Regions from separate parts of the Homo sapiens genome. Here all the other regions are linked to region 1. The links come from fine-mapping of genetic effects on gene expression. A gene starts in region 1. Each other region holds a variant in brackets. All regions are shown on one strand. Distances are between the middles of the regions.

Region 1 (4,242 bases):
AATCAACCTGTTCTACAGTGACACCCAGGTTGAGGCCATAAACACAGTCACTCATGAGGAAAGGAAAAATGGCAGAGCCACATACATAAAATGTCCTACTACTCGCAGACACAAACACAGTCAGCCTGTTGAATGTGGAAGATTCCAAGTTAGTATCACCGCAGCCATGCCAATCTGCCAGTTAATCTGCCAGGGGAAGCGGATCCCTGTATCTCCAGGTGGTGGAAGTTGCAGGAGTCCTAGTTCAGGCCTCAGAGAGTAATCTGGCCTCTCCTGGGAGCTGCACCTGACCTGTACCTGTTTCCTTTTGTCAAAAACTGCGCCCGCATGCAGACTAGGGAGGCCTGCAGGTGAAACATAACAATCCCAGCGACAACAATGCCAGGAGTATAGGAAAGGCCACCGTCCATGTTAAATTCACACTTAAAAGTGTAGCTTGAGAGTCAGACCAGACCAGGGCAAGGGTGTAGGTGCTACTCTTAAAAGACGCGCTTCCACACTCAGCCTCTACGCAGATTTGGGACACCCAGCAGCCTGTCAAGTGGGTTTGCCATCATAACACATTTGTATCTTAAATGTGAAACATGGTTCAGTAATCACAATTCCCACACAGTTGTTGAAAATACAATTCAGGCCTGGCGCGGTGGCTCACGCCTATAATCCCAGCATTATGGAAGGCCGAGACGGGCGGATCACCTGAGGTCAGGAATTCGAGGCCAGCCTGGGCAACATGGTGAAACCCTGGGTGTGGTACAGCGTGCCTGTAATCCCAGCTACTCAGGAGAATCGCTTGAACCCAGGAGGCGGAAGTTGCAGTGAGCCGAGACCGTGCGGCTGCACTCCAGCTTGAGGGGACAGAGTGAGACTCCGTCTCAAAAAAAAAGAAAAAAAAAAAAACAAACCGAAACCAACCAAACAAAAAACAATTCAATAGGAGCACCTGGTCTTTTAACATGAAATCGTAAATATCTGGCTCAAACGTAACAAAGTAACACAAAATTTTAGTTTGAACTTCTGAAAATCGAAAATGGAAAAACTGCAATTTTCCTTATCATGCCCAGGTTAAGAGCATCAGGGTTAAGGGCACCAAGCGGGACACCCATGAACGGAGGCTTTGGTCCGTTTGGTTAGCTTTAGACAAGCGACTGCATTCATCCTCCTTCTCTCCTTAAAGATGGTGAACACTTCTTCATGTCATTGGAGTTGGAAATGGCTACAAAGCCTGATGGGAAATCCTTTATTCCACGGTCATTCGGCAGTTTCCCACGGCGGGGGAACAGTTTTAACTCGCCCGTGGGGAGGGTGGAGCCGGAGGTCAGTCCTACAAATGAGGTTTTGAGGGCAGAGAGCGGAGAAGACTCAGGAACGCGGCTCCCAGGATTCGCAAACCCAGTTCCCGGACACTGGCAGCGCGGCCCGCAGCCTCCACCGGCTGTGAAGCTGACCAACAGCGACAGGCGGGGCCGGGATCACGTGACCGACGTCTGGTCAGCCGGGCGTGCGCGGGAGCACGCAGAACTGTTCGGCCCCGGGCCGCGCGCCTTGCGTGCGCGCGCATGCCGGGGGCGGGGCATGTGGGCCAAGCCTCCGGCGCGCGCTGCGGGCGGGGGCGGGACGGAGCGGGGTGGAGGGCGGGGGCGGGGCCTAGTCCTGAGAGGCTGGGCCGGCGGCGGCTGCGGCGGGAGACCGGTGACCCGCGGCTGGGCGCCTCGGCCATGACTGCGGAGCTGCAGCAGGACGACGCGGCCGGCGCGGCAGACGGCCACGGCTCGGTGGGCTCCGCGGCGGCGAGCGGGAGCTGGGGGCGGGCTCCAGGCCCTGAGGGGAGCGTGCGGGGCCTGCAGGGCTGCGGGTTGCGGGCTGCGGAGGGCGCCCCGGCCGGGCGGGACAGGGGGTGCGCCCGCCAGCGTGGGTGAGAAGGCCAAGGGCTCTGCGGGGCTCGGGCCGCGGAGATTGAGGACTGCATCTTCGCGTCCGTGGGCGAGCTGAAGTTGTAGGGGGATTTCCAGATTTTGGAAAACCAAATATAAAGGGCTGGACGTGGGGTTCTCCGCCGCAGGGATCAGTAAGGTGAGCCCTCCTGGGCCCCGTCCGGGGTGAGAAACTTCCGAAAGCGGCAGCGTTGGTTGGTTTTGTTTTGCTTTGACTTTTAAATCAGTTTTATGGCGGCGTTTTTAAAAGGTTAAAGCAGACCGAAGTTATCTCACTTAAAGTCCGGAATTAATCACCGTCTTCTATAAGACCAGGGGTCCCAGTTACCACCACTTCCCTCCCTCCCAACCCGGCTTTAAAAACAAAACAGCGCAGCCTCCCCAATTATTGCCTTCATCGCTCTAGATTTTTAAGGAGGGGGAGGAGCTGCGTGATGAATAGAAAGTCTACTGATGATGATCTCCTGTTCCCAATGTCTAAGAAGATTGAAATCAATATAAGGACTTCTGATCTAAGAATCTGGTGAGAGTGAAAGAACCCTGGTTTGAGAGAAAAGCTAATGTCTGTATGAAGAAACTTGGGAAGAGGGCAATTTGAGCATGTCTTCTAGTGTTACTTCGGAATGTTATAACTTAACACCACCTCCTCACCCCTCAAGTACTGCACTTTTTCAAGAGAAAACGGGAAATCTGTGCCAGTTGTTCAAATACGAGTTTGGAGATGAGAAACTATATTTGTCGTACAAAGCTGGCAGACAGATACCCTCAGGTGAGAATCCTTTTATACCTTTTTACTCTTTTGTCTGGAAGGCCAGTAGTATTTAGCATGGAGACACTTTTTTTTTTTTTTTTTTTTTTTTTTCGACAGAGTCTCCCTCTGTTGCCTAGGCTGGAGTGCTGTGGCGCGATGTCGGCTCACTGCATCCTCCGCCTCACCCTCCTGAGTAGCTGGTATTACAGGTGCTTGCCACCGGCCCGGCTAATTTTTGTATTTTTAGTAGAGTCGGGGTTTCACCATATTGGTCAGGCTGGTCTCAAACTCCCGACTTAAGGTGATTCGCCCGCCTCGGCCTTCCAGAGTGCTGGGATTACAGGCGTGAGCCACCGCGCCCAGTCTGGACGCACTTTTTTTTTTTTTTTTTTTCCAGACGGAGTCTCACTTTGTCGCCCAGGCTGGGGTGCAGTGGCGCGATCTCGGCTCACTGCAACTTCCGTCTCCCGGGTTCAAGCGATTCTCCTGCCTCAGCCTCCCGAGTAGCTGGGACTACAGGCGCGTGCCACCACGCCCAGCTAATTTTTGTATTTTTAGTAGAGATGGGATTTCACTGTGTTGGCCAGGATGGTCTCGGTCTCTTGACCTCATGATCCGCCCGCCTCGGCCTCCCAAAGTGCTGGGATTACAGGCGTGAACCAGGGCGCCCAGCCTGGATGCGCTTTTTAAAACTCATGTAGAAAAAGATACTTCCAGGTCCTGGGCTCCGAAACGAAAGTATCATGCACTGACTTCTAATGGAAATATTGTTAGATGTTCACAAGTGCCTATTGAAATGTGTCAAGATTTTTCTCTGGCTTCAGAGGTCAGTTCTATTTGTTTTTAGCACAGTGATTTAAAAACATGGGAAAATTTTAGTTTGGAGACTATCATATTGATTTAGAGAAGAGACTATTTTAAGGGAGAGAGAAGTCATATTTAAATTTGTCGTGGCTCAGTCATTTAAGACCATGTGCCTATTAATCAGTGGCATCTTCATTTACCTCTGCCGCAGTTTGAGTAGTGACCCTATTTCAGCATTCTCCGTTTGAGACTGTGTGTGAGCTACTTGATGAGCATTTGTATGTAAGTCATAGCTATTTTGGGAAGGCTTGGAACTCCAGTGGCTGTGGCTGGCTGGAGTACTCCGATTCCTGGCCACCTGCAGAGTGATGACATTTACTGTTCTTCCCAGTGATTTGCCCTATACGGAAAGCTGATAAGCTTGGAATGCTTGATAATGTTTGCCCCTTTTATTTTTGCTAATAAAATGCTTCAAGTTACCAGGATAGGTTGAAGGAACTTACAGGAAAAGTACCTTTTGATCTTACAGGAAAGATTTTAATAACTTCTTCCTCATCTTGGTAAGTTTCATGTTAGAATGGATTCTTTTATTTTGAACTCTCTGAGGCATTCTACCTTTCCCTTAAAGGATATTTCATTGTTCTAGTTGAGGAGAGCTATCCTTCCCTGACACTCAGAAGCTATTTAAAGCCTAGACTGCTTCCCTTCCCTTATTGGTCAGTTGTACACAGGACAGACAAAACCCTTTATGGCCTC
Region 2 (4,242 bases), 64 kb after region 1:
GTAACAAACAAGTATGTCATTAAAAGGGTCTTCACTCCAGATAGATAAGTGGTCACTTAACTCTAAGAAGCATGTGGCTGAATTAAATATGTTAACTTAAATTTTGTTGCCAAATAAAATAGGCATGGAACAAAATAGCTGCTAACCTTTGTAGGTCCCAAATATGCTAAGCATTTTCAGCATGAGTGGTCAAGGTGATTCTATTTTTAGATAAACAGAGTTTTGAATTAGAAGGATGCATATGTTTAGGTTATGTTTGGTTTTAGATCTGAGGAGTTTAGAGTTGAAAGAGTCTTCAGAGAGGTCATGTAGTTCAGCGATCTGGTTTTCAAGGTTTTGGAACTGAGACATAATTGATCAATTCCAAGGCTGTGTTTTTGTGGACTTCATCTTGAATCAACAAGATGTTTTAATATGAACCCCACATTAATCACATCATAAACAGTAATTTCTTAATAACCTAAACTTTATCAGATTACTTTGCTTCACCTGACTGGGGAATGTACATTCTGACTTACAGGTGCCTTATCGCTTGCATGCAGTTCTTGTTCATGAAGGACAAGCAAATGCTGGACACTATTGGGCCTATATCTATAATCAACCCCGACAGAGCTGGCTCAAGTACAATGACATCTCTGTTACTGAATCTTCCTGGGAAGAAGTTGAAAGAGATTCCTATGGAGGCCTGAGAAATGTTAGTGCTTACTGTCTGATGTACATTAATGACAAACTACCCTACTTCAATGCAGGTAAAAGTATCTTGGCAGAATCTATAGATTGGGGAAAATCTGTACTGCTCAGGGAGAAGAACAGTCTTGTACTGCTTTTTAAAAAATTTACAACTTACTATTATATAATAATAGATTTAAAAAATATAGACAGTATAAAAGGAAATGAAAAGGAAAAACAAGTTTGCTTTACTACTTTCTTCCTTGACCATGGGTCCCACTCCCAACAAGTACACAATGTTAGGTTTCTTATGTAGTCTTCAAGACACATTGTATACATATGCTAGATTCTATTTATCTGTATCTTCCCCTCCCCCTTTTCCCCAAGTAGATTATTTTTCCATTCAACTCTGAACCTTTTTCATTAATCGAGTATTTAGCAATCTCTATATTTTTAGTAAAAGAATCTTAACTGTTTAACAACTATATAGTAATTCATTGTGTGGAATATACGTATTTTTAAAATTTACTCGTAGATAGACTAATTCTCTAGTTGTTGTTGTTTTTAGTGACATCTTTTTTTTTTCTTGCCCCATCTTATGGTGCTGATAGTACATATATTTTTGCACCCTTTGGAGAATAACTAAATTTTTTCTTTCTTTTTTTTTTGAGACATAGTCTTGCTTTGTCGCCCAGGCTGGAGTGCAGTGGCGCAATCTCAGCTCACTGCAACCTCCGCCTGCCAGGTTGAAGTGATTCTCCTGCCTCACTCTCGCAAGCAGCTGGAATTACAGGTGCCCACCACCATGCCCAGCTGATTTTTGTATTTTTAGTAGAAACGGTGTTTCACCATCTTGGCCAGGGTGTTTTTGAACTCCTCACCTCAGGTGATCTGCCTGCTTCGGCCTCTCAAAGTGCTGGGATTACAGTTGTGGGGCCCAGAATAACTAAATTTTACAGGTGTATTTGCCTGAATAGTTTCACAGTTGTTGTAATACTACTACTCATACAGAGAGCAATAATAATTATCATTTATATTGGTACTTTACTTCTTAAAGCATGCTTTCAAACTTTTATTTCTCTAAGAACTTACAGCTGTGAAAAGGAGGGAAAGAGTTTGAAAATGTTGTCATCTTCATTTTCCAGCTGGATAACAGATTCCAAAGGGTTCTAAAGTTGAGTAATCACATAGTCAATAAATGGCAGTCCCAAGATTCAAATACAATTCTCCAAATTCTGTGGTGTTTTCAATTTACATTATTCTCTCTTTCTTTCACATCCTCTATGAGAGGTCTTATGATGAACATTTTATAAGTAAGATAGTAGAAAGCTTTTGCCTGTAGTATTCAAACTTTACTGTGTGGCGTAAGTAAGGAAACATCGCCCCGGCATGGTGGTTCACGCCTGTAATCCCAGCACTTTGGGAGGCCAAGGCGGGCGGATCACTTGAGGCCAGGAGTTGAAGACCAACCTGGCCAACATGGTAAAACCCTGTGTCTACTAAAAATACATAAATTAGCTGGGCATGGTGGCACACACCTGTAATCCCACCTACTTGGGAGGCTGAGGCAGGAGAATTGCTTGAACCTGGGAGGCAAAGGTTGCAGTGAGCTGAGATCGTGCCACTGCACCCAGCCTGGGCAACAGAGTGAGACTTTGTCTCAAAAAAAACAAACATGTAAGGTGTTCTGTCCAGGCAGCACGTTATCTTTCTGATTTGCTAGTGTGGTTGGGGATTAGGGAATGGAGAGAATGATAAATGAACAGTAAGTA[A/G]TCTTCACAATTGTATATTTATGCTGCGAAGGAATGAATAGCTGCTTGAATGTACTAGCTGTTGTTAATATATAGGAGCCTTGTTATTGCATGCATGGTTTATTTTTCTATTATAGAAACAAACAAGTGGAAACTGTCATTTGCTTAGTGAAAAGGCTGATTAATGGCAACCAGTAAGTGAATGTGTTAATCTGCTATAGACTTTTTTTGTTTGTTTTGGTCACAGGGTTAGAAAATGAAATTTTATATGTCATTGATATCCTTGCCATTAAAGCCAGGTATTATTGACCATTTCACCATTGTATCAAATTGCTTTCTCATAGTACTGAATTGTATGAAAGTTGGTGGTATAAATGTCTTGAAATTCATCTCTAACCTTTTTGAAATGGACATTCTTATCCGCCAAATGCAGTGGTTAAATGGATAAAACTGTTTATCTTGAAATTTTTATTGGCTCTAATGATTTTCTGAATTTCCCTGAAATGATTGGTATATCCAGTGATTGACAGTGACCAGTTTCCAAATCTTTTTTTTTTTTTTTTTTTTTTTGAGATGGAGTCTCACTCTGTCTCCCAGGCTGGAGCGCAGTGGCGCAACCTCAGCTTACTGCAACCTCCTCCTCCCAGGTTCAAGCGATTCTCCCACTTCAGCCTTCTAAGTAGCTGGGATTACAGGCATGCGCCACCACGCTTGACTAATTTTTGTATTTTTTTTAGTAGAGACAGGGTTTCACCATGTTGGCCAGGCTGGTCTTGAACTCCTACCTCAAGTGATTGGCCTGCCTTGGCCTCCCAAAGTGCTGGGATTACAGGCGTGAGCCACTGCACCCGGCCCACTTTCCATATCTTTAACTCTGTGTTATTCATTCACTTAGCAGATGTTTAATGAGTGCCTACTAAATGTCAGGCACTGTTATCAATTGTTGCCCTTACATTGTCCATACAGGTTGAGCATCCCACATGTGAATATCCAAAATCCCAAATGCTCCAAAATCCACAAAACTTTATGAGCCTTTTTCATTACATGATGCTGGAAGGGAATGCTCATTGGAGCATTTTGAATTTCAGATGTTGGATTTTAGGATTTGGGATGCTCAACTATAACTAATTGTGCAGATTTTCTAAAATATGAAAAAAATTTGAAGTCCAAAACAGTTCTAGTCCCAATCATTTTGGATAAGAGATACTCAGCCTGCATTTCTGATGGATTCTATGTGCATGTATTTTTAGTTAGGAGTAAGATAAAGATGAAATACCCTGCTTTCTTCTTTTCTAAAAAGGATGTTTTCGTTCCTTGTGACCTTTTAACTCTATCTTTGCTTTTCCTCAGAGGCAGCCCCAACTGAATCAGATCAAATGTCAGAAGTGGAAGCCCTATCTGTGGAACTCAAGCATTACATTCAGGAGGATAACTGGCGGTTTGAGCAGGAAGTAGAGGAGTGGGAAGAAGAGCAGTCTTGCAAAATCCCTCAAATGGAGTCCTCCACCAACTCCTCATCACAGGACTACTCTACATCACAAGGTATCTGAGAAGGCATTTATGCCAGTGATCCAGTAACATCTCATGCTGTACTCCCCTAGCCAGCCCTATACCCTTCAGCTGGCTAGGTGATGCCACAGTCTTCACAGTATATTTCATATACAGTTGGTATGCCAGGTACAACCTGATGGAATGAATTGTGGCATTAGAATGTGATTTCTGATGAACAGAAGCAGTATCAGAAAGACTAACTACCTGTGACCTTCACTGTGTATATAGTTTTGCTTATTTCCCAGGTTATGGGAGAAACTATGATAGGGTT
Region 3 (4,242 bases), 970 kb after region 1:
GAGGAGGCTTCACTCCTGATGGTGTTCTTCTTTCCTCTGCAAATTTTGGAAACGTGGAAGGTGCAGGGCATGTTGGTGACGGGGCTTGACTGTAATAACCTGTTTGCCAGTCTGAGTTTTATAGCCTTGCTGAGGATTCCTGGGCTGAAACTGAAATTCTATTTCTGCAACTGAGGATAAGCATTTCTAATTCTGCTCATGTTGAAAGGGTCCAATTTCCAAAGGCACAGACTTAGCACTCCTTATTTGCACTGAATCATCAAACCCCTCGCCTGGGCCTGGGCTCGGCTCTGACTTCTTGCGGAGGAGCTCAGGGGAAGCAGGCAGTGATAGATGAGGCTGAAGAGGTTGGCAGGGGCCAGCTTTAGAGAACCATCCATGGCAAGGTAACACATCAAATTTTTATCCTATAGAGGATGGACAATCATTGAAGAATATTTAACTGGGGAATAACAGTCAGATTGGTGTTTCAGATTGAACATCATGGCAGCTGAGTGAGGATGGGTTGATATAAGGGGGGCAAGACAGGGGACAGGGAGGCCAGTTAGGAGTTTCTACTAATAGCTGGGTTGACAGCATCAGGACTCAGGGATATCTAGCCACCTGTTGGACTCGTCCACTTCGGTTTTCTGCAAAGAAATAAAACCTTATCCTCTTACCTCAAAATCATGCTTCTTCCGAATTCCCTGCCTTGATGAAAATTGCCCAACCACCCTAGTCAGAAACGTGGTAACCACTCTTGACACACTTCAATTTCCTCCTTCCCCATATTCTATCACCATGACCTGTCCATTTTACCTGTAAAATAGTATAGTCCTGAAATCTTCCCCTCTGCTCCATTCCTAAAATTATTGCTCCAATTCAGGTCTTCATATTCTCTCCCCTGACTTTTGCAATAGTCTTCCAAACTGAAAAGTAGTGGTCCTCAGAGGGTCTGCTCTTTCAGAGAGGGCAAAGAAATGAGAAACATCCCCCCCTCCCCACACTCAATTGCAAGACCAGCTCCTCAACAGGAAGGCTTACCTGAAACCCCCAGGCAGGTTAGGTACCTTTCTTAGTCCATTTGTGCTGTTAAAACAAAATACCTTAGACTGGGTAATTTATAAACAACAAATTTATTGCTCACAGTTCTGGAGGCTGGGAAGTCTAAGATCAAAGGCCTGCAGATTCAGTATTTGGTGAAGCCCTCTTCTTTGCTTCCTAGATGGCACCTTCTTGCTGAGTATTCATATGATGCAAGGGGCAAATTTTTTGTCTTCACGTGGTAGAAGGTTGGAAGGGCCAAACAGGTTCCTCAGGCCTATTTTATAAGGTCACTAATCTCATTCATGAGGACAGAACCCTCATAACCTAATCACCCCACAAAGGCCCCACTTCTTAATACTGCTGCCATGGTAATAAAGTTTAAACATATGAATTTGGAGGAGGAGCAAAAACATTCAGACCATAGCAGTACCCATTCCCTGCTTATCCCTATCATAGCATTTTTCACATTTTGTTGTCCTTATCTGGTAACATATTTGTCTTCCTCTCTTGATCAAGGGTCAGTAAACTAAAGCCTGCTGGCCAAATCTGGCCTGCCACCTGTTTTTGTAAAGAAAGTTTAATTGGATGACAGCCATGCACAATCACTTACACAGTATATAGGGCTGGCATTTTTCCCTACACAAGAATGGAGTTGAGGAAGTCCAACAACGATGGGGTAGCTCATAAATCCTAAAG[T/C]ATTTATTACCTGGCCCTTTACAGAAAAAGGTTGTAGACCCTGTTCTAGCCCATAAATATATCAAGGGTGTGAAAGAGAGTTTATGTGATTGCCGTATCCCTGGGATCTAGAACAGTGCTTGGAACATAAATACAAAGTGTGCTGTGTGTGTGTTGGAACGACCTACCTCTTGTGACTGGCTCAATGGTACTAAGGAAGATGAGTCACAGCCTGATTTCTATACACCTATGAACAGATGTAGTTCACCTCTTTCCCTCTTAGATGATGACCTCCACTATTATTACTCAGCAATGCTTAGCTCCTTTTACTGGTGGAGTCCCAAACACCTTGATTCATCATGCCTAGGGGTGGCATTGCCTGCAACCCATACACCCCAATAACGCAACCCATCTTTCAGCAAGATGGGCTATGGTTTCTGCCTACTATTCATCCCAAAGGAGCAGAAAAGTTTAGAGACTCCTATAAGGCACCGCAATCTTGGTTTAGTCCTGTAGTTATATTGCTTTCAATAAGTTTTGATGGCTGAGTCTAATGATTTCAGAGATAGATCATGGATTTAGACCAGACTTTCTAGAAGCAAAGCATTAGTCTGACATGAGGGCTCAGACCTGTATGTTGGTCATTTCAGTGATCAGGCACTGTGCTAAGCAGTTTGCATGCATTAGTTTTCTTTCTTTCTTTTTTTTTTTTTTTGGCCTTGAGATAGGGTCTGGCTCTGTTGCCTAGGCTGTAGTGCAGTGGCACAATCTCAGCTCACTGCAACCTACATCTCCCAGGCTCAAGTGATCCTCCTACCTCAGCCTCCTGAGTAGCTGGGACTACAGGCGCACACCACCAAACCCAGCTAATTTTTTGTTTTTTGATTTTTGTAGCAATGAAGTCTTGCTATGTTGCCCAAGCTGGTCTCAAATCCCTGGGGTAAAGCAATCCTCTTGCCTCAGTCTCCCAAAGTGCTGGAATTACAGGCATGAACCACTGCACCTGGCCACAATCAGTTTTGCTCACTGTTGCTCTATCCTATGTATCTAGAACAGTGCCTGGTGCCTGATGCATGGTAAGCACTCAAGAAAGATTTGTTAATGAAAATTCATTTGAATTGTTTTCTATCATTCTTTTCACCACTTGTGAGCTATGCCCTATTTTCCCCCATCTTATAGATGAGTAAGCAGGGCCAGGAAAGCTCTGCAGTACAGCTGGCCAGTGTCATGGGCAAGAGTTAAGCCAGAACTTTTTGGTTTGGAAGGCTGTGCTCTGTCCATGACATCAAGATTATCAAGATTTGGGCAGAGAGGAACTCCATTTGGGGTGTAACATCCTCACCTTTGTTATTTCAGTTCTAGAAATGTATCAGAAGACAAACTTCTTGGGTCACTATTTCCCAGGGTGTACAGATACTCCCTGACTTATGATGGAGTTATGTCCTGGTAAACCAATTGACAAGTTGAAAATATCATTGCTTCAAAAATGCATTTAATACACCTAACCTGCCAAACATCATAGCTTAGCCTAGCCTACCTTAAACATGCTCAGAACACTTACAGTAGCCTACAGTCGGGCAAAATCATCTAACCTAAAGCCTATTTTATAATAAAGAGTTGAATATCTCATGATTTAAACAATTTTTTTTTGAGACAGAGTTTCGCTCTTGTTGCCCATGCTGGAGTGCAGTGGCACAATATCGGCTCACTGCAACCTCTGCCTCCCAGGTTTAAGCAATTCCCCTGCCTCAGCCTCCGGAATAGCTGGGATTATAGGCGCCTGCCACCATGTGTGCCTAATTTTTGTATTTTTAGTAGAGAGGAGATTTCACTATGTTGGCCAGGCTGCTCTCGAACTCCTGACCTCAGGTGATCCACCTGCCTCGGCCTCCCAAAGTGCTGGGATTATAGGCGTGAGCCACTGTGCCTGGCTGAATATCTTATGTTATTAAGTACTCTACTAAAAGTGAAAAACAAAATGGTTGTACGGGTACTCAAAGTATGGTTTGTACTGGAAGCATAGCGCTTTTGCACCATGGTAAAGTAAAAAAAAATGTAAATTGAACCATTGTAAGTCAGGGTGCCTGTAATCATTTACATGATTTCAAAAGCAGCATTTTCAAGAGCTGAGATTCATCCTTTGCATAAAAAACAGGACAGAGGCCCTTGAGAATTCCGTGTTGCCTGTACAGGTTTTGGCATATTCTCTGAAAATTCTGAAGACAGCAGCCCCTCTCCCATGCCACTGTAGAGAATCCTGGGCTTCCCTAAGGCTACATCGTGTTCCATTCAAGCACAATGGTAATGGGGCAGTTGAGCTGTACACCGGCTTTTCAAAAGGCTCCAGTATAATGTAGCGATTGTGTCATAGACAACAATAATAAAGAAAAAACCTCCCAGCCAACTTTTTTCACATGACTGGACAGAGAAAACAAGCAAACACGAAAATGACTGAGCCTCCCCCAAGCCTCCTCTTCAGAAGGCAGGCTCCAGAACCATTGCTTGATTCTCTATGTCACAAATTGAATGAAGATTGGAAAC

Alleles and levels. Positions count from the first base shown, and alleles are read on the strand shown. Sizes are in standard deviations (SD) of each study's normalised expression. Not every link is listed here.
As copies of C replace T in region 3, the expression in liver of the gene that starts at base 1,645 in region 1 goes down (large effect, 0.78 SD a copy in GTEx).

What was found. PIP is the estimated chance that this variant, and not a neighbour inherited with it, causes the effect.
Region 2: its variant is fine-mapped to the expression of USP28 in whole blood (INTERVAL, PIP above 0.99).
Region 3: its variant is fine-mapped to the expression of USP28 in liver (GTEx, PIP above 0.99).

Annotation. Positions count from the first base shown.
Region 1 is chr11:113,872,975-113,877,216 of GRCh38, reverse strand. USP28 (ubiquitin specific peptidase 28) reads left to right here and starts at 1,645. Exons shown (of 26, transcript NM_001346252.4): 1 at 1,645-1,772. The coding sequence starts at 1,716. RefSeq lists enhancers at 425-1,086, 1,137-1,386, 1,376-1,670, 3,257-3,757 and silencers at 1,407-1,566, 1,587-1,946.
Region 2 is chr11:113,808,783-113,813,024 of GRCh38, reverse strand. USP28 (ubiquitin specific peptidase 28) reads left to right here. Exons shown (of 26, transcript NM_001346252.4): 16 at 521-749; 17 at 3,771-3,962. Among named protein-coding and RNA genes, the nearest start is that of CLDN25, 31 kb to the right of the region's middle. The variant A/G (reference allele first, on the strand shown) is at 2,442.
Region 3 is chr11:112,903,352-112,907,593 of GRCh38, reverse strand. No RefSeq gene overlaps it. Among named protein-coding and RNA genes, the nearest start is that of NCAM1, 56 kb to the left of the region's middle. The variant T/C (reference allele first, on the strand shown) is at 1,723.